Regions from separate parts of the Homo sapiens genome. Here all the other regions are linked to region 1. The links come from fine-mapping of genetic effects on gene expression. A gene starts in region 1. Each other region holds a variant in brackets. All regions are shown on one strand. Distances are from middle to middle. Region 1 holds the start of ATOH8 (atonal bHLH transcription factor 8). Region 2 holds the start of GNLY (granulysin). Region 3 overlaps GNLY (granulysin).

Evidence for each region. PIP is the estimated chance that this variant, and not a neighbour inherited with it, causes the effect. A credible set is the group of variants that fine-mapping cannot tell apart.
Region 2: its variant is the best candidate, but not a certain one, in a credible set for the expression of ATOH8 in whole blood (INTERVAL, PIP 0.77).
Region 3: its variant is the best candidate, but not a certain one, in a credible set for the expression of ATOH8 in whole blood (INTERVAL, PIP 0.70).

What each region holds. Positions count from the first base shown.
Region 1 is chr2:85,751,289-85,758,134 of GRCh38, reverse strand. It overlaps ATOH8 (atonal bHLH transcription factor 8), which reads right to left and starts at 4,144. Exons shown (of 3, transcript NM_032827.7): 1 at 3,178-4,144. The coding sequence starts at 3,945.
Region 2 is chr2:85,689,220-85,696,065 of GRCh38, reverse strand. GNLY (granulysin) reads right to left here and starts at 1,708. Exons shown (of 5, transcript NM_006433.5): 1 at 1,596-1,708; 2 at 643-746; 3 at 10-108. The coding sequence starts at 1,647. The variant C/T (reference allele first, on the strand shown) is at 3,645.
Region 3 is chr2:85,696,737-85,703,582 of GRCh38, reverse strand. GNLY (granulysin) reads right to left here. Exons shown (of 5, transcript NM_006433.5): 4 at 5,906-6,077; 5 at 4,731-5,019. The coding sequence ends at 5,009. Among named protein-coding and RNA genes, the nearest start is that of GNLY, 5.8 kb to the right of the region's middle. The variant C/T (reference allele first, on the strand shown) is at 4,165.

The DNA.
Region 1 (6,846 bases):
GCCCAGCCCTGAGGACCTTGGAGATGCTTAAGAAATGTTCAGTGCTCTGGCTGTGCACAGTGGCTCATGCCCGTAATCCTAGCACTTTGGGAGACAGAGGTGGGTGGATCACCTCAGCCCAGGAGTTCGAGGCCAGCCTGGGCAACATGGTGAAACCCCCATCCCTACTAAAATACAAAAAATTACCCAGGTGTGGTGGTGCGCACCTGTAATCCCAGCTACTCGGGAGGCTGAGGCAGAAGAATCACTTGAACCTGGGAGGTGGAGTTTGCAGTGAGCTGAGATCACACCACTGTACTCCAGCCTGGTCAACAGAAAGAGACTCTGTCTCAAAAAAAAAAAAAAAAATGAAATGAAAGAAATGTTCACTGCTCTTATAGGCCTCCTACCTTTCCTCACTTTCTCTTCTCAACACTGGATGAGGTCAGCAATATTACCATTTTACAACTTCAGCAACTGAGGCCCAGAAAGGGTCAGTGACTTGTCCACAGCCACACAGAAGGCATGCAGGGGAGGAACAACTCAATGCCTGGCCTCCAGTTTCCCAGATCAGTGCTTCTTTCATGGTACCAGGAAGCTGCTCAGGAGAATGAAGCCCCAGGCCAGAGCCACAATCCCAGAACCCATCTCAGTGCCACACTGGCCAAGGCCCCATTTCAGGCGGAGCTGATCTGCCTTTTGTCCATTTCCAAGGACCCATTTCAGTCAGGCCCGAGCCTAGCTCCAGAGCTGCAGCTCGTCTGGATTCGGGGAGGGGGTGCGGAGTACATTTTACAGAGAAGACTGAGGCCCAGAGGAGGAAGGGGCTCCTCCAGAACACAGGACTTCCTCTATCGAATGGGTGCCATGGTGGTGAGGAGGACATGGTGGGTGTGGCCTTGGCCCCTGGTTCTATGACCAGAAACGTCCTGGCTGTATTTCTTTCCTTCCCAGCTAACAGGCAGGTGCCCACTATGGCCTGGCAGCCTTTCTGGGGAAGGGGCAGAATGGCTAGGGCAAGGAGGAAACAAACAGGAACAGGTGCTTCTGTGACCATGCATTTGTGTGTGCTCTTGAGCACGTGTAAGGAGCATGTGTGTGTGTACCTGCCTGTGTGTTTGCATTGCATACACACGCTCTCCCTGAGAGGGCATGGGTGTGCCTTCTACTTAGATACACTGAACTTGCCCTTTTTATAGAGAACTTCCCACGGTAAGGGGGGAAGTAAAAGGAGACCAGGATGAACAATCTCATCTCAAAGGGTCTGCCAAGTGTGCACCCTGCCTTGATTGTTAACAAACATCACAGGCTGGGGGCTGGGGGGGTGGCACATGACGCTGATACAGATGGCACTGTGGGAAGCATTTGGCCAGGAGGGCATTCCAGAAACTGCTGTTATCTTCCCTAACCCACTAGGTGACCTTGGACAAGTCTCCTTCCATCTCTGGGCCTCAGTGTTCCATACTATAAAATGAGTTAATCCAATTTCGACAGGGATTATGTTTAGATCAAATGAGATGGAATTGATTGTTGAATGAAGTAAAAGTCAGTGGGCACATGAGATGTAACAAAGCACTCAGATGAGTATTCTCTCAGCATACAGAGGCAATAGAGGAGCACAAGGGCCCAGAACCTGCAGTCAAAGCCCCTAGGTGCCAGCCCTGACCTGCTACTCAACAGCTATGAGGCTCTGGGCACGTGCCTCCCCAGTCTAGGAGGGGCTTCCCTAGTGGCAAGGTGGGCAGGTGGACAGGCATCTCTCTGCCCTTCTGTTATCCTTCTGTCCTGGGGAGTGGGTTGCAGGATCCCCCACGCACCGCCACCTCTACCCAGCGATGCAGACACAGAGCTGCTGGCTCAGGGTGGGACTGACTGCTCCACTGGACCCACCGCCCAGGGTTCCAGCTGGTGTGGATGAGGGCAGAGGCCCAGCCTGGTCTGTGACAGCCACCCGTCCCCCACCCCCACCCCCACCCCACCTCACTGACCACTTTCCCCAAGCCCAAGCAAGACACTTTGGCTCAAAAGTCATAGGGCCTCTTTCCTCCAAGGATTCAATTTCCTTTCCATGGATGGACACAGGCACTACTGCCCCACCCCACCCCAACCCCCAGCAGGAAGAGGAGAGTGATCCAAAAAGAAGATCATGGTTTCTGAAATGTTTTGTTGCTGGATAAAGCCCAGAGAAGTTGAGCAACATTCCTGGAGTCACACAGCAAGTCAGCTGCAGAGTATGCAAATAAAAAGAAAAAAAAAACACCCTTCAAACCAGCCACATCTACCCTAACCCTTCCCCACGCCCTGTGTGGGGGTGGGAGAGAACTCACCACCTCCTTCCTAGAGCTCCTTCTCGCTAAGAAAATAAGAAGCCTAGAAGCCCAAGCGATTGTCCCGCCCCACCACGGGTAATTCTTGGGTTAAGTATTCTTCCGCTACCTGCGCAGGGGCACTGTCTGGTGAGGGCAGCCCGCACCAGCCCCAAACTAAAAAGTCCCGGACCCACCCCAGAACTAGGCTCTGAAGATGCTCCAGAGGGAATCCCCAACCTAGGCAGTCCCCTCGGCAGAGCTGCCTGCTTCACCACGGGTGAAAGGAAGGGATCTGCTAGAAAGACTCCCACCAGCCGATTCCTGAGCCCACCCCTGGGGAGAGGGCACAGGCTTGTAGCGCGGGTTCTTGAGGATGCCAGGGCAAGGAGTGCATAGCCCGGAAGCAACCTGAGTGTTCGGGGCATCACCGCTGGGGCCTGAAGAGGGGCTGACAACTCCCCCGGACTGTCCCACCGCAGCGTTCCGGACCTTGCCACCACCAACTGGAGAAGGCTCCCCCCTTCCTCCGCTGACAGATTCCCACATTTCCCCTCTCCACTCCGCACCGCGCCCAGGGGACTCCGGCAGGCAAATACTCGCTGCCATAAAAGTGAACTATGGAGGCTGAAGTCAGAAGCGCAGACAGCGTTACCCCCGAGGCGGGGGTTGAGGGCGGGGGGTGCTCGGGCCAGAGATAACCAACTCTTATAGCCACTTTGAAAACTATGATCCATACCCTAGGACTGCCCACACCTGTCTGGGCACCAGGGTCGGACCGGGCGGGGCAGCTTGCCCCTTAAACACACCTCTATCCCGCCCCGGCCACTCGCCCACCCATTCCCGCAGTCGTCCCCCGGCGCAGTGAGGGCGTGCGGCGGCGAGCGGGTACCTGCTTCCTGAGCGCCTCGAAGGCTGCGCTGATGGTGTGCACCCGCGTCCGCTCCCTGGCGTTCGCCAGGAGCCTCCGGGTCTGCTGCAGGGCTTTGATCTCGGAGGAGGCGGCAGTCGCTTCGCCCGGTCGTTTCCTAGGCGACGCGGAGGAATCCTGGTGGTTATTGTAAATTACGTGTGAAATTGACGAGTAGGAACTTTCCCCGGGGCGCGTCGGGGGCGCAGGGCGCACAGTGGACTCCGGGGGCGCTGGCGGTGCTGGGGGTGCTGACGGCGCGGGGCGCGCGGGCGGTGCGCACAGCAAGATGCGAGGACGCAGACCCGGCTCCCGGAAAGGCTGTGCCTCTGGGCCCCCAGGTGCCTGGCTCTGGGGCGCAGGAGGCGGCGGCGGCGGCGGCGTGGGGAGTCCTGGCCCCACTGCGCCTAGGGCGAAGCAGCGTTTCCGCGCGTCGGAGACCTCGGGCGCCCGAGAGCCCCCGCGCTCCCCGGCTGTGTCCGTGCCCCCTCTTGGGGGAACGGCCGGCGCCACTGGGACTGGCACCGGCACCGGTACCGGGACCGGCTGCAGCCGATGGGTCCTGTCCCGCAGCCCGTTGGTGGCTACGGCGCGGGGCTCGGGCGCTTCCAAGTCCAGTCGGAAAGTTTTATAGCCGTTCGCGCGCCGCGCCGGCTCCTTGCCTTTCCGCTTGAGCTTCTTAAGGCCGTTCAGCTCCTTCACGCACACGGTCTTCCACGGCCCGTCCTCGAGGACCGGGATGTGCTTCATGGCGCGGGCGGCGCGCGAGGCAGGGGCGTGGGGCTGCCCGGGCCGCCGCCGCGCTCAGCGCCGAGGAGTCTCTGGCTCTCCCGCTTCGCCCGCCCTCCCCCTCCCTCTCTCCCTTTCTCCCCCTCGCCCCGGGCAGCTGCGCCGCCGGCTTCGGGAAGCCGCCGGGCTGTCCGTTCCCGGAGCGCTCAGAGTGTCATCTGAAGTCGCTGCCTCCTTGCCAGCATTTCTGGAGAACGCCCGCTGCGCTCCATCTGTGTTTGTTTAGCCTCAGTTTACACAGAAGCCCAGTTCGCGAGATCAGTCAGCGCCGCCGCCCGGAGAGGAGGCAGCTCCCGCCGCCACCGCCTCCCCAGCCCGGGCCGCCCGAGCCGCGAGCGCCTTTAAAGAAACAGGAAGCATTTTTCAAAACAGCTGGGCCGCCGGCCGCCTCCTTTGTCCGCGGGCTCCCTACCTCCCCCCCACCCCCATCCCCTTGGCCCAGAACCTGCCTCCTCCGGCGCTCCCTCCCCGCCCCTACTCTAGTCGGGGGCGCTTCTATGTTCCCAGAGGACAGTCCGCTCCTGCACAACCGCCCCGAGCACGTGACTTATGGGCCCCCGGCCCTTCCCCAAATCACAGCGGGGCCTTTTCTCCCTGGCCTTGCCGGCCTCTCGGTGACGCAGCTCCGACCTTGCCCACCCGGCACCTTCCCGCCGCTCCCTCCGCCCCAACTCGCCACGAGACAGAAAACGCCGGGAGCTGGGACTTCTGCTGGGGGCCGATGGGGAAGGGGAGACTCCGGAGTTGCCCGGCGACCCACACCCGCCCGGCACGGCAACCCAGTCCACTCTCACTTGCTGGAGCGGGAAAGCAAGAGGAGCAGAGGGCTTAAGACAGGGAAACTGAGTTTCCGAAAGCTCCAAAGTCACGCAGCAAGTCACAGAGGCAGAGGAGGGTGGAAGCTTCGGATTTAGGCAGACCTAACGTCTGCGAGCCTCCGCAGTCACCTCACTCCAGGCGCCCTGCTAAACCGGGATTTACTCATCTGTGAAATGAGAAATTCGGAGAACAACGCCTAAGTCACAGCATTGCTCTGAGGAATTAAAGCACTAGGCACATAGGAACGGGTCGTCAAATGGTAGCTGTGGTTGTTGTTAGTATTATTTATTGAGGCAAAACAGCTACTTGAGGCAGATTTCCTGGGCTCAAACCCCAGCTCTGCCACTCACTGAATGACCTTGGGAAAGTCACTTAACCTCTCTGTGCCTCCCTTTCCTCACCTGTAAAACGAGGGTCATAATCGTACCTTCCTCCCCAGGCGGTGTGAAAAGCGTGTATGCGCAAGGCACTCAGAGCAGTGCCTGGCACCAGGTGAGAGCTTTGCAGGTGCCCACGGTTATTGGCAAGGGGCAGAGGTAGACCCCCCAGACCCTCAGTCATCAGTGCCATTCCACTGGAGATTCTGGAAAGAAGGGGTCAAACTAGTAGGCCCTCAGATGTCCTTGCCAGAGGACTGCTTCCCAGCCGCTCCCTTCCGAGGCTCAGAACAGGGCTTCACTCCTTGCTGGTCCCTTCTCTGTGACTGTTACTCCTTAAGGAAGGTGGACACTAAAAGCCAGCAAGGTGGTTTGGGAGAAGATGGACCCTTGACCCTGGCCTTGAACTCTGATGAAAACACAAGGGCTCACACAGAGTGGAGTGCTTCTCTCCTCCATGGGAGAATGCCTAGGGGTGGAGGAGGCAGATGGCACGCAGGGTGCTGGGAGGTGGGATGGGGATCTGGGCATAGCTTTGGGGGCAGGAGCATGGAGCTCCAGCCAGCAGCCCCGGTTGAGCCTTGGTTTGTCAACGACGGAACCCCATGACCACGAGCAAGACGTTTCCTCCCACCGTCACTCTTTTCTGTCTTTGAGGATATTTCCAGCCAACCTTCTCAGGGTAGCTGGGAAAGGACAAAGAGATGGATGTCAAAGGACTTTGACATAAGACTTCAAACATAGACACACACACACACACACACTGAGGCATGCAGTTTTCTGAATATAGTAAATGCAAAATCTCATTTTGCCACCAAGGTGGGTGCCAGCATCATAAAGCATGTGCTCCCGGAGACATCGTCTTCCCTGGACACCTGCATATTCCTGCACCTTATCTCTGTCCTGGAGACCAGGTGTGTGCTGCCAAAGAGGAGCCCTCATTCTCCTGTCGTTTCCCTGCTCAGCCTCGAACCCTAAAGTTCTGGCCTTTGCTCCCAGGTCTCCCACGGCTCCCCTTTGCAACGCACACTCTTCCTCACCCTTCGATGAACAGCTCCGGTCCCCCTCCTCCCGCGAACCTTCCCTGCTCACCATAGCCTCCAATTGCTCTTGCTGGCCTGTGTGCATGCTTGCTCAAAAGTCCTGCTGCAACTTAGCCTCCACTGCAGCCCTGTTGGAACTCCTGGGCTTGTGCGTTCCTCAAAGGCGCACTCTTGCCTTCCTCCCTGTCTCTAAAGGCTGGTGCTCAGGAAACCTCTGATAAGGACAAGCAACCCTCGTGCCCTTTACACTCCTGTCTGGAGACCCAGTCCTCCTGTGCATCCAGCCAGTCAGTGGCAGAGATGGAGGAAAAGTGACACTCCTTCTCCAGGGCTGCTCAGGTACTCTCTGAGCTTCAGTAGCTTCCTCTGTAAAACGGGAGTAATGATACCGTGCCTCACACGGCTGCAAGGACTCAAAGACGCAGCATGTGCAGCATGTGGCATGATGCCTAGAGTCTAGGGAATGGTGACCTTGGGCATCCTGGGTCAGCCAGCTGCTAAGGCCCCCTTGCATCCCAGACTTGGGTGTAGCTGAAGACTGGGGTGCCCGTGGCTGGTGAGGTTGTGTGAGAAGTCTCTAGCAGGACTGAATTTTGTCCTTAAAGAGGCCAAGCTGTGTCTGG
Region 2 (6,846 bases), 62 kb after region 1:
TGGCCTCACCTGGGTGGGCTTATCCACCATCTTCTTCAGTTTTTGGACTATCGTCAGACAGGTCCTGTAGTCACGGCCCAGCTCCTGTGTTTTGGTCAACAGGTCACCCTGTCAGGAAAGAAAGCCCTTATGATGGTCTCTCAGACACTCTGGGAGCGCGTGAAAGTGCCCAGGAAAGGGGCCCTTTGTGTTTCTGAGGCCGGCAGGAATGTCCGTGATCTCTTCCCAGAGCGTGGATACACTGAAGGCCTGAACTGGCTGCCTGGCCCCTGCCCACCCTTTTGCTTGTCTTAGAGGCTCTGAGACACCCCAGAAACAGCCTCCCACACCCCCAGTACTTTCCCAGCCCTGCACTTGCCCCTCTCCTATTGAGGAACTCCCAGGGGAGTCTGCCTATTTGGGTTCTGCAGCCCCAGGCTCCTTGGAGGGTGAGACCCCAGAGGATCCTCCTGGAGGAGTCTGCCAGATACCTGTAGCCCTCCTGGCCAGACATGAATTCAACAAAACCAGCATCGTCAGAAACAGCCCAGCCTCCACTCCCACCTCCTGACCATTAGAGAGCTCCAGACCTCACCCCAGGAGCCACCAGGGAGGAGGGAAAGGAGAGGGACTGTGGCAGGTGAGCAGAGAGCCAACACGTACCTGGGGGCCCTCCTGGGCCAGGCACGGGCAGGATTTCTCCTCATCACGCAGGTGGGCTCTTGCCAGGTCGTAGTACTCAGGGCTCAGACGAGAGAAGACCAGACCTGAGGAAGACCAGACTTCAGCTTCCCCTCCGCAGGCGGAAGGAGAGGGAAAGCCCGTTCTCCTGGCTGGTGGGAGTCCAGGAGGTGACCAGGGCCTAGGACAGGAGCTGGGCCTTGCAGGGGGCCAGGATACCTGTCCACATGCTTTGCCCTGGAGCCGCTCTGACCCACTCTCAGCACAAACACGTGTTCTCACGTTCCTTCTAGAAAGCCAGGAGGGCGAGACTCTCTCTTCTCCTCTGTTCCCCCAGCAACACAGATTTGGGGGTCGGTTTGTCTAGAAACTTCCCTCAATCTCCTTTCAAGGGATTTTCTTTTTTTACCTTCCATCCAGATGGCCCAGCCAAATCCACTCTCCCTTCCAGAAGTGTTCTTGCCCTTGGGGCTCACACTGACCTCAAGGCCTGGGAGAGAGCAGGGTGCAGGGGGCAGGAAGTCTGCCTTGAACACAGAAGAGATCTTGTTCTCTCACCAGCCCCGCACAATCCTAGACAGTGTAGGCCCGAGGAAACGCAGATCCACCGATGAGGGCCAATGGCCTTCACCACGCAGATGCGGAGGCAGGGGCTTGGGAGGGAAAGGGGGGTCTCAGGCCACACAGTGTGGCCAGTAGAGTTAGGACCAGAATCCCTGGCCTGTCTCTCCTCCTTGGCCAGGCCAGTGACAGGCTGGGCAGCACACTGGACTAAGCCTGGCTCTGAGGGGAGGCCAGGCCTCCATGACGGGGGAGAAGGCCGGGGGGAGGCAGGGGCACCTGGGTGCCCACAGAGTCCAAGCTCCAGGTTCAGCCAGCCTGAGAGTGCGAGGCTGGGTGGGCCATCAGGATCGATCCCGAGGGGAAGGCCTTACCTGGGTTGCCCAGGAGCATGGCTGCAAGGAGCAGGAGGGCCCAGGTAGCCATGGTGGGGCAGCCGCTGAGATGCCTTTCACACCCTGTTTTATGGGCAGGGAGCCTGCAGCTTAATCTTTCTCAGGTCCTGCCCTTTTTGTATGTCATCTCCCCCGTGTCACTGGGTTTACCACAGATACAAATACCAGTGTGTGAAGAAGCAGCTCAGGGCAGTGGTAGCCCACAGGGTCCATGCCACACCCCACTCCCACACAACTAGAATGTGGGGTTGCTGGAGGCCAGCAGCTGCCAGGATGCCTGGGATGTGCCGATGGAGGGAGAAACCCCTTAGTACAAGTACGTTCCAGATATTGCATGGGACATACTTATACTAAAAGTATAAGTGAGTCATCTCACTTGACCCAAAAACTATTTTTAAACAGCTTTTTAATTTAACAATATACCACGAACATCTTTCCACATTTGTAAATGTAGATCTTCTTCATCATTTCCCCTGGTTGCCTAATGGTTCCCTTTACACATGAACCATAGCTGGGGTCCTGTAACTCTGGGACTCGTGTCCCCTGTGGTACTTCGGCTTGAAGAGCAGAGGCTGGGAAGCCTCTCCAAGGGCTCACCCAGTAGTCAAGTTGAGTGATGTGAGGGCCTTCTTCAGACAGGGTGCCTCAGCATCTCAAAAAGGCAGCTGTAGCTCCTCCAGGCTACAAGGCCTGTTCACGTGGAAAATGGAAAGAGTGAAGCTGAAAGAGGTGGTACCTGTATAGGAAAAACATCTTTCCCAGGGACCCTCAGCCTCCATCTCATTGATCTGAACTGTGTCACATGATGACCCTGGCTGCAAAGGGCAATAGGAAGGGAGTCTTTTGCTGGACCTTCACTGACACTTTGCTTTTTGTTGTTGTTGTTTGTTTTTGTTTTGTTTTTCTTTTTTGAGACAGAGTTTCACTCTTGTCACCCAAGCTGAAGTGCAGTGGTGTGATCTTGGCTGATTGCAACCTCCACCTCCGGGTTCAAGTGATTCTCCTGTCTCAGCCTCCTGAGTAGCTGGGATTACAGGTGCACGCCACCATGCCCTGCTAATTTGTGTGTTTTTAGTAGAGACAGGGTTTCACCATGTTGGCCAGGCTGGTCTTGAACTCCTGACCTCAGGTGATCCGCCTGCCTCGGCCTCCCAAAGTGTTAGGATTACAGGCATCAGCCACCGCACCTGGCCTTCATTGACACTTCGAACAAAATTGATATCCTGCTAGGGAGGATGAGGGAATGGGAATCGTATAGGCAATGGCAGTGTCAGCTACCGCAGGACTTTTTTTTTTTTTTTCTGATACAAGTTCTTGCTCTGTACCTCAGGCTAGAGTGCAGTGGTGCAATCACAGATCACTGCAGCCTCAACCGCCCAGGCTCCAACAATCCCCCCACCTCAGCCTCCCAAGTAGATGAGACCACAGGTGCTTGCCACTACCACCCCTGCTGATTTTAAAATTTTTGGTAGAGATGGGTCTCCATATGTTGTCCAGGCTGGTCTCGAACTCCTGGACTCAAGCGATCCTCCCAGCCTCCAAAGTGCTGGGATTATAGGCATGAGCAACCACGCACGGCTTTGCAGGACTTTTTGATAAGGAAACATATTTCAGGAAGAATTGGTAGGACTTTGTACCTATATGATTACAAGAAAGAAAGAAGAGAGAGGAGGCAAAGGTTTTACTAGTATTTGGGGCCCAGGAGGCTGAGGGACTGGCTGTGAAAATTAGGAAAAGGAGCTTTCTGGTGAGAAGTTGAGTTTGAGGTATTGCATTTGTGGCTGTCTTGTTTCCCCAGCTGTAAATCAACTGCTTGAGAGCAGGGCTGCCTCTGCCTGTCAGGGTCTCCCCACCATGCCTAGAACAGCTCTCAGACCAACCGGCAAACTCGTTTTACCTCAGATGAGGAAACCAGGACTCAGAAAGATCCAGTGAATTACCCACCAACACACAGCTAGGAAGGGAATGGTCTGTGGATTTGAACCCAGACCCTACGACTCCAAAGCCCAAGTTTTCCCCCAGCCCTAC[C/T]CTAACTCAGTGTCCAGGTTTTCAGTGCAGGGCCACTTAACCCTCTTGAGGCCAGCTCAGGCACTACTCCCCCATCTGAGCAGACCCCCTCTCTCCTGACCACTTGTAGACCTTGGTCTCATGTGTGAAGACCACATTCTTGGGGGTAAAGGGTCTTGAAAGGTGACTCATGTCTCTTTATTGTGGGAAACTTGGTGAGACCAAACACTGCAGTAAGTCCTTGTCAGAGGTATTGAGGAGTACGTGGCAAAGCTCATGTAGTTAGTCACAAGCCTCCACCCAGGCCTCTGGGGTCCCGTGTGATAAGAACCTGGGGTAAGTTTTACCCAATTCCCACCCATGGTACCCCAGGAACTGGCCCATTGCAAGTCAGGCCCAGGCCCACAAAGAATTCCTCTGTGAAATATTGCCTTCTGCGGAGCTTGCAGTGAGCCGAGATCGCGCCACTGCACTCCAGCCTGGCGACAGAGCGAGACTCCGTCTCAAAAAAAAGAAAAGAAAAGAAATATTGCCTGCTGTATCTTCTTCAGGAAATCTTCACTTACGCTATCATAAAAATCACCTCTATGTTTTTTTCTAGAACTTTTATAATTTTAACTTTGACATTTAGGTCTATGACTCATCTCAAATTAATGTATAGTGTGAGCTGGGTTGAGGTTTTGTTTCTTCATATCAATTTCTTGAAAAGATTTTTCTTTTCCCATTGAATTGCTTTGGCACGTTGGTTGAATATCAATTGACTGTGGGTCTGTTTACGGACTCCTTATTATATCAACTGCTACTGCAATAATAATAATAAAGCAATCCAATTTTTTAAATGGGCAAAATATTTGAACAGGTAATTCGCAAAGGAAGATAAGAATGACCAAAACATTTGAAAACCTGCTCAACATCGTAAATCACAAAGAAATTCCTTTTTTTTTTTTTTGAGATGGATCCTCACTCTGTCGCCCAGGCTGGAGTGCAGTGGCGTGATCTCGGCTCACTGCCACCTCTGTCTCCCGGCTTCAAGCAATTCTCCTGCCTCAGCCTCCTGAGTAGCTGGGATTACAGGCACACACCACCAAACCTGGCTAATTTTTGTATTTTTGGTAGAGATGGGGTTTCACCATCTTGGTCCAGGCTGGTCTTGAACTGCTGATCTCAAGTGATTCACCCACCTCAGCCTCCCAAAGTGTTGGGATTACACGCATGAGCCACTGCGTCTGGCCAAGAAATTCTATATTAAAACTATACTGAGATGATGCATCAACATGACTAAAATTAAAAAGACAGAAAACCCAAATGCTGATGTGTCTGTGGAGCAACTGGTACTCTTAAGCATTGTTGGTGGGAATATAAAACACTAATAACTGAAAATTGGATTGACGGTTTTTCAGAAAGTTGAGCGTACACCTGCCCTGTGACTCAACAATTTCACTTCTATGTATTTACCCAAACTAAATGAAAACACCTCTACATACACAGATTTATACAAGAATGTTCACAGACATGTAACCCAGCAATTCCACTCCTAGGTAGACACCCAAAAGAAATAAAAGTAGATTGAAACAGATACTTGTACATCAATGTTCATAGAAGCATTATTCACAGTAGCCAAAAGATGGAAAGAGCCCAGGTGTCCATTGACAAATAAATGGATAAACAAGCCGGGCATAGTGGCTCACACCTGTAATCCCAGCACTTTGGGAGGCCAAGGTGGGAAGATGGCTTGAGGCCAGGAGTTTGAGGCCACCCTGAGCAACATAGTAGACCCCAGCTCTACAGAAAAAGTTAAGAATTAGCTGAGCATGGTGGCATGTGCCTGTACTCCCAGCTACTCAGGAGGCTGAGGTGAGAGGATTGCTTGAGCCCAGGAAGTCGAGGCTGCAGTGAGCCAAGGTCATGCCACTGCACTCCAGCCTGGATGACAGAGTGAGAGCCTGTCTCTAAGAAAAATTAAAATTAAAATTTTAAAAAGTGCATAAACAAAATGTGCTCTACATATACAATGGAATATGATTCAGCCTAAAAAGGGAACACAGTTCTGATACATACTACAACATGAATGAACCTTGAAATAATTATGCCAAGCGAAGTAAGCCAAACACAAAAGGATAAACATTGTATGATTCCACTTACATAAAATTTATAGAATAAACAAATTCATAGGGACAGAAAGTAGATTAGAGGTTACCCAGGGCTGGAAGGAGTGGGAAATGAAGGATTTAGTGCCCACTGGTTAGACTTTCCATTTGGGATGATGAGAATGGTTTTGGAAATCGATAGTTCCAAATAGATGATTCCACAATCTTGTGAGTATAATTAATGCCACTGGATTGTACATTTAAAATGGTTAAAATGGCTAATTTTGTCATTTATTTTTATTAATATTATTTTTAATTGACAAATCATAATTTTATATATTTATGGAGTACAATGTGATGTTTTGATATATGTATACCACTTGGAATGATTAAATCAAGGTAATTAACATATCTATCACCTCCGTTATCATTTTTTGTGGTAAACGTTTTATGTTATATGTATTTTACCACAATAGAAAAAAATTGTTTTAAAAGGTTGTTCAAAGAAAATGAAAAAAGGAAGAATGAATGAATAAATAAATAAATAAATAAAAGATTGTTTGCAGAAGCTTTTTCATAACAGCCAAAAATTAGACATAACCCAAATGTCCATCAACAGGTCAATGGATGAAGAAATTAAGGTAGAGCCATACAATATTATACATAACTACTTGGCAATAAAAAGGAATGAACTACTAATACAAGCAATAAAATGAATAAATCTTTAAAAAAAAAAAAAAAAAAGGAAAAAGAAGCCAGACACGAAAGACTACATTCTGTATGATTCCATTTGTATGAAGTTCTTGAGCAGCAAAATTCATCTATGGCAAAAGAAATCAGAAAAATGGTAGGAGGTGGGAGGAGGATGTGAGGGTTATTGGGCTGGCACAGGGGTATTTTTTTTAGATAGTGAAAGTGTTCTATATCTTAATTAGCTTGTGAATTGCATGAGTGTGCATCTATCAAAACTCTTCAAACTGGACACTTAAGACTTAAGCATTTTGCTAGATGTAAATTATACCTCAATTTAAAAATTATCCAAAAAATTATTATTATTATTATTTTTGAGAGGGAGATTCCCTCTTGTTGCCCAGGCTGGAGTGCAATGGCATGATCTTGGCTCACCGTAGCCTCCG
Region 3 (6,846 bases), 55 kb after region 1:
AAGAAAGAAAAGGAAGGAAGGAAGGAAAGGAAGAAGGAAGGGGAGAAAGAAAGAGAGAGAGACAGAAAGAAAAGCTGAAAGCCAAATACAGGGAGAAAATCTTGACAGCAGCAAAAGAAAAACAATTCATCACTTACAAGGGAACCCCCAATTATTAACAGGTGCCTCCTCATCAGAAACAGTGGAGTGCAGATGAGTCCAGATAGCAGTGGGGAAACACACCTCCAGGATAGACTATGTGGTAGCCCATAAAACAAACGTCAATAAATTAAAAAGGATAGAAAGAATACAAAATATGTTCCCTGACCACAACAGAATAAAACTAATAATCAGTAACAGAAACAAATTTGGGGAACTCACAAATATGTGAAAATTAAACAACACACTCCTAAATAACCAATGGATTAAAGGAAAAATCAAGAGGGAAATTAGAAAATACCTTGAGGTGAAAGAAAATGAAACCACAGCACACCAAAACTTACGGGTTGTAGCTTAAGCTGTGCCAAAAGGGAAATTTGTAGCTGTAAATGCCTATAATGAAAAAGAGGAAGATTTGAAATCTTCGTCTCAGAAATCCCATTTTAAGACAATGGAAAAAGGCTGGGTGCAGTGGCTCACATCTGTAGTCTCAGCACTTTGAGAGGCCAACGCAGGAAGATCATTTGATGCCAGGAGTTCAAACCCAGCCTGGGCAACATAGCGAGATCTATCTCTAAAAAAAAGAAAAGTAAATTAGCTGAGCATGGTGGCCTGTGCCTGTAGTCCTAGCTACTTGGGAGTCTGAGGCAGGAAGATTGCTTGAGCCCAGGAGTTCAAGGTTACAATGGAAAAAAAAAAAAGACATGAGAAAGAAGAGCAAATTAAACCTAAAGCAAGCAGAAAAAAAGAGATACTTAAAAAATTAGAGTGGAAATGTGGAAATTATTAAAATGGAGACTAGAAACAATATTTGAGAATACGAGATGAAATCAAAAGTTGGTTCTTTGAAAAAGCAAGTCTTTAGTTAGATTGACCACAATAAAAAGAGAGATGCTGCAAATTACTAGAATCAGAAATGAAGGAGGGGAAATTACAACTGACCTTACAGAGAGAAAAAGGATTATACTATTATGCTAATTAATTATGCTAATGCATTAGACAACTTAGAATGAAATGGGCACATTCCTACAAAGACACAAATGACTGAAACTGATGCAAGAGTAACAGAAAATCTGAATAGACCTATAATAAATAGGTTGAATTAGTCATCAAAACAATGACTCACAAAGAAAATACCAAGCCAGATGTCTTCATTGGTGAATTCTACCAAATATTTAAAGAATTAATACCAATTCTTCAGAAACTCTTCCAAAAACTAGAAGAGGATGCCCTGATGCCAAAACCAGGTGAAACCAGATGAAAACATCAAAAGAAAAAAAAAAACTACAGACCAATATCTCTTTTGAATATGGATACAAAAATTTTCAAAAAAAATTCTAGCAGGCTGAATCCTGCAACACATAAAAACAATTATATACCATGACCAGGTAAGATTTATCCAGAAATGCAAGGCAAATCAGCAACCAAAAGTCAAGTAATAAAATTCATCATATCAGTAAAATTAAAAATGAAAAACACATGATCCTCTCAATAGCACAGAACTATCATTTGACAAAATTTAACATCTCTTCATGATAATAGTCTCAACAGCAGGGGAATCACTTGGACCCAGGAACCTGGGAGGTAGAGGTTGCAGCAGCCACTGCACTCCAGCCTGGGGGACTGAGCGAGACTCCGTCTCAATAAAAAGGTGTTTCCACTTATGGCAGAAGAGAAAGGGAGCAAGTGTGTGCAGAGATCACATAGTGAGAAAAAAGAGAGAGAGGAGGTTTAACAAGCAGCTCTCACAGAAACTAATAGAGCAAGAACTCACTCATTACCACAAGAATGGCACCAAGCCATTCATGAGGGATCCTCCTCCCTGACTCATACACCTCCCACTAGGTCCCACCTCCAATATTGGGGATCACATGTCTTTTTTTTTTTTTTTTTGAGATGGAGTTTCGTCCTCATTGCCCAGGCTGGAGCGCAATGGCGCAATCTCGGCCTCCCAGGTTCAAGTGATTCTCCTGCCTCAGCCTCCCGAGTAGCTGGGATTACAGGCATGTGCCGCCACGCCTGGCTAACTTTGTATTTTTAGTAGCGATGGGGTTTCTGCATGTTGGTAAGGCTGGTCTTGAACTCCCAACCTCAGGTGATCCACCCACCTAGGACTCCCAAAATGCTGGGATTACAGGCATGAGCCACTGTGCCCGGCCAGGGATCACATTTCAACATGAAGTTTGAAAGTTGCATTCTTGCAACTTGCCATGGAGTTTGGAGATTACACCTTCCAAACCTCCCAGTGTAAACAGGAGCCCCTATTTACCCTTAAACAGGATTCTCCACTGTTAACACCTTACCACATTGCATGTATGTGGTATATACCTTATCACACTCATTCTTTGCGTATGTATTCCCTTTTTTTCTGAATCATTTCAGAAATTGTAATTGCAGATATGATGACCTATTACTCTTTGAATACCTTAGTGTATATTTTCTAACAAGGACACTGCCGTACATAACCATAGTACAACCATCAAAATCAGGAATTAACATTAACAGAATATTACCATCACAGATTCCAGTCACATTTTATAAATTGCCCCAATTATGTTCTTTATAGGTCTGGATCCAAATCAGGATCATGTGTCGCAATTTGTTGTCATGTCTCTTTAGTTTCCTTCTATCTGGAACAGTTCTTCAATCTTTACTTGTCTTTCAAGACCTTGGCATTTTTGAAGAGGACAGGCTAGAGTGCAGTGGCTCCCGCCTGTAATCCCAGCACTTTGAGAGGCCAAGGCAGGCAGATTACTTGAGGTCAGGAGTTTGAGACCAGCCTGGCCAACATGGTGAAACCCCTTCTCTAATAAAAAATACAAAATTAGCCAGCTGTGGTGATACATACCTGTAATCCCAAGCTACTTCAGAGGCTGAGGCAGGAGAATCACTTGAACCCAGGAGGCGGAGATTGCAGTGAGCCCAGATCGTGCCACTGCACTCCAGCCTGGGTGACAGAGCCAGACTCAGTCTAAAATAAAAAATTTTTAAAAAATTTTTAAAAAAAGGATATGCTAAGTATTTTGTAAAATGTCAGTTTGAGTTGCTCTGATGTTTCCTCATGATTTTTGCATTTCGGCAGGAACAATGGAAAAGTAGTATTATATTTCTCTCAGAGCATTATATTATGAGGCCCATGATATTGACTTGCCCCATGGGAGGTGGGAGTAACTTTCATCAGCTGACAGGCTTCTCCACTGTCAGGTTAACTAATAATGGAATGTATTAATTAATATCAAATTAGTGAGCCAGGCGCAGTTCTGCACACCTGTAGTCCCAGCTACTCTGGAGGCCTAGGTGGAAGTATCCCTTGAGGCCAGGAGTTTGAGGCTACAGTGAGCTAAGATCATGCCTGAGAAGGGCCACTGCACTCCAGCCTGGGAAACAAAGTGAGACTCTGTCTCTAAAGAATAAATAAATAAATAAATAAACACTTTTAAAAAATCAAGTTAGTATATGATATACTCACTATACCAAATATGTTAGTAGGATATACTTTGCAACTATGTCTACATTTATTAACTGTAATTGTATTGTAAGGTAGCACGTTTCCTTTTCCCTTGTTTATTTATTCATGTATTATTTGTATTTGTATGAATTCATGGATTCTGCTTTATTCAATGGATTACGATCTGTTCTTGTCATCATCTATTCTGAGGCTCAAATAGCCCCAGATTTGGCCATCGGTAGTCCCCTTGAACAGCTTCTTTGATTGAACCCAGAATAACACACCATACTCCTTGGGTGGCCAGCATCCATTTTTCCCTCTTCCCACCAACAGTAGCCCAGATTTTCATGTTTATTGTCAACCAAGTGATTGGGTTGAGATGGACCCCACCTCAGCTCCAGGGGTGTGCCCTGCTTAGCTTAAGCCAATCAGTGTACCCCATTATTCTCCAGGACACAGTGATTGGTCTGAGGGTGGGCAAATGACCTGTGAGAACTGGCCAATGAGAACTGAGGAGATAGCTGATAGGCCTTCTGGGAAAGAAGCTTCCTATTTCTTTCCAAGGGAGCTCTCTCTCC[C/T]TCTGATGGAGGCACTGTAAAGAGGTGAAGTGTGGACCTGATGAAGCCATTTCTGCTGCCAAGAGAGAAGCGAACCTGAAGACAATTTCAATATACAGAGGTCGGGAGAACGAAAAATTGCAATAAAACAGGACTGGGGCTCTGCTGACGCCACACATTTCTGGATCATTCTGTGCCTGAACATACCCGTGGACTGGTTAATTATTTGAACCAGTAAATTATCTTTTTTGATTAGGCCAGAATGGGCTGAGACTTCTGTTGCTTGCAACCAAAAGGGCCCTAAAAGATACACTCCCCCGAAACCGCAAAGGAAGGCTGCCTGTCGCAAGAAGCAAGAGGATGGGTTTCTGTTCCTTTTCACCAAAAACAAAACAAAAACACCTCTAACCCTGCTGGTCTATCCCACTGGTCTGAGAGCTTCTGGGGACATCGCCACTGTGTGCCTTGGCCTTTCTGAATAACGCATGGCTGTGGTGAGTGCTCAGTAAGCATTTCACGACTAACTGTGTGAATGCTGTTAAGGTTGTCTCGTTCACCACTAAATCCATAACATCTACAACAGTGTATGGGACACACGACAGACATTTATTGAAGGACTACACAGCTCACCCCAGCATGCCACTGACACCCACCCCTCAAATCCACCAAAGAAGAAGCAGCTGCGGCTAAAATCTTGCTTGACACTTTATTCTCGTGAGAGGGGAGGACAGCAGAGGGAGTCAGGGGAGGGAGACTGGAGAGTGGATTCTGGATCGAGGAAGCGAGGAGCCGGCAGAGGTTGCTGAGGTTCCCGGGATCTGAGGACAGGAGCCTGTGCTTCTTCCACAGGACAAGGTGAGAGGGCTCAGAGGGGACCTGGAGAGGAGAGAACAGCCAGCTGTGGGCAGATGTGGTGGGTCCTCAAGGAGAAGCAGGCACTCAGAATGTTACTTGCTTAAGGTCCCAGAGCCACCTGACCCTACTGAACACACCCAGAGGCACATCCTGGAAGCCAGTCGGCAGCCTGAGCAGGTTGTGGGGCCTTGAATAGAAAAGCCACAAGCTCCAATGACAGGAAATGGTGGGGACCCCCGATCTGCCAGCATAAAATCCCAGAGCATTGGCAAGTGCCAGCTGAGCTGCCAGAGCCAATCACCGAGGCCCCTTTCTGGCCCCATTTCCTACAGCCGAGATCTGTTCTCTCCAGGCACAGCCTGGGCAGCCATGGAGGGAAAGGCCTCATGCTCCCCTGCCTGAAGGGTTCCCTAGCCCAGATCTCAGGGCCCAGGATTGTGGGGGAGGATATGGCCCCAGCTCCCGACCCCAGGGGCCTGTGCTGGGCTGGGATTGGAGTTTGACTGAGGGTCTGATGACCTTGAATAGCCTCAGTCTGAGGACATTTCCCCAGGGTCAGGTCCACACACACGGTGACCTCCTTCAATTCTCATTCCAATCTCAAAAATCAGGATTGCTATCTCCCCTTCACAGATGAAGAAACTGAAGCTCAGAGAGGTCAAGTTATTTGCTTAAGGTCACACAGCCAGGGAGAGATGGAGACCAGATTTTACTCCACGACCACCTGTGTCTGAAGCCCAAGCTCTAATCAGTATTTCTCAAACATTTCTAGCTAAAGTCCATCTGCTCAATTCTCCACACTTTCCCAAGCTGGGAGATGGGGGAGTAAGGAGGCAGCTTTGATATATCCTGGGGGAAGCTGTCTCCAACCCTCAGGAGGTATCCCTGCTGTCACCTCTGCACTCACCTGTAGAAGGTATACACAACCTGAGGTCCTCACAGATCTGCTGGGCAGTTTCTCCGGCCACGAGGCCCTGGGTAACTCTAGACTGATACCTCCTCATGAAATTTCTGCAGACGTCGCGCCATCGTGACCTCCCCGTCCTACACACCCGGGTCGCAGCATTGGAAACACTTCTCTGCAGCAGCAGCACCACAGTGGACATGGTTATAGGGTGAGTCCTGCCCAGCTCTGCCACCCTGCAGGTTCCAGCAGCCCTAGCAATGGGAGTACTGGGTGCGAGGAGCTGGCACCTGGTGCCCATGGGGCCAGAGACTGTACAGACGGGGCTCAGCCCCTACTCCCAGTCCCCAAGGCCTGGCCCAAGACTGGCCAGGTAGGGCTCCTGAGACAAGGACAGTTAGCCCTGCTGGGGTCTCAGCGCCTTGTGCACCTGTCCCCTGCCTTCTGTGTGGAGAATGGTGCCCATGGCTGCCAGGCACACATTAAATGCTCTGCCATGTAGCTACCTGGGTCCAGGACCTGGCTGGGGGCTCCAGATAGAGGGGGTGCATAGAGAAGACTGGTGGGGTGGGAGGTGTGGTCAGAGCTTGGAGTCTTGGCTCATTTGGTTTTAAAGTCTCTTCTATGCCATCCCAGGGGAGGAGGATGAATCTGGGTATCCAGGGCTAAGTGCGAGCCTGCAGTGCCAGGATGCTGAGTAGTTTGGGGCAGCAGAGGAGAGGGAAGGAGGGAGAGTGAAACAATAATTCTTGGTAGTAACACAGTCATTCGTTAAGCATTTACTCAGTGCTGGACGTGGAGCTAAGTACATCCCAGCCCTCAGCTCTTTTAAAAAGCTTCAGCAGCCAGGTGCAGTGGCTCATGCCTGTAATCCCACACTTTGGGAGGCCAAGGCAGGTGGATTGCTTCAGCTCAGAAGTTGGAGACCAGCCTGGGCAACACAG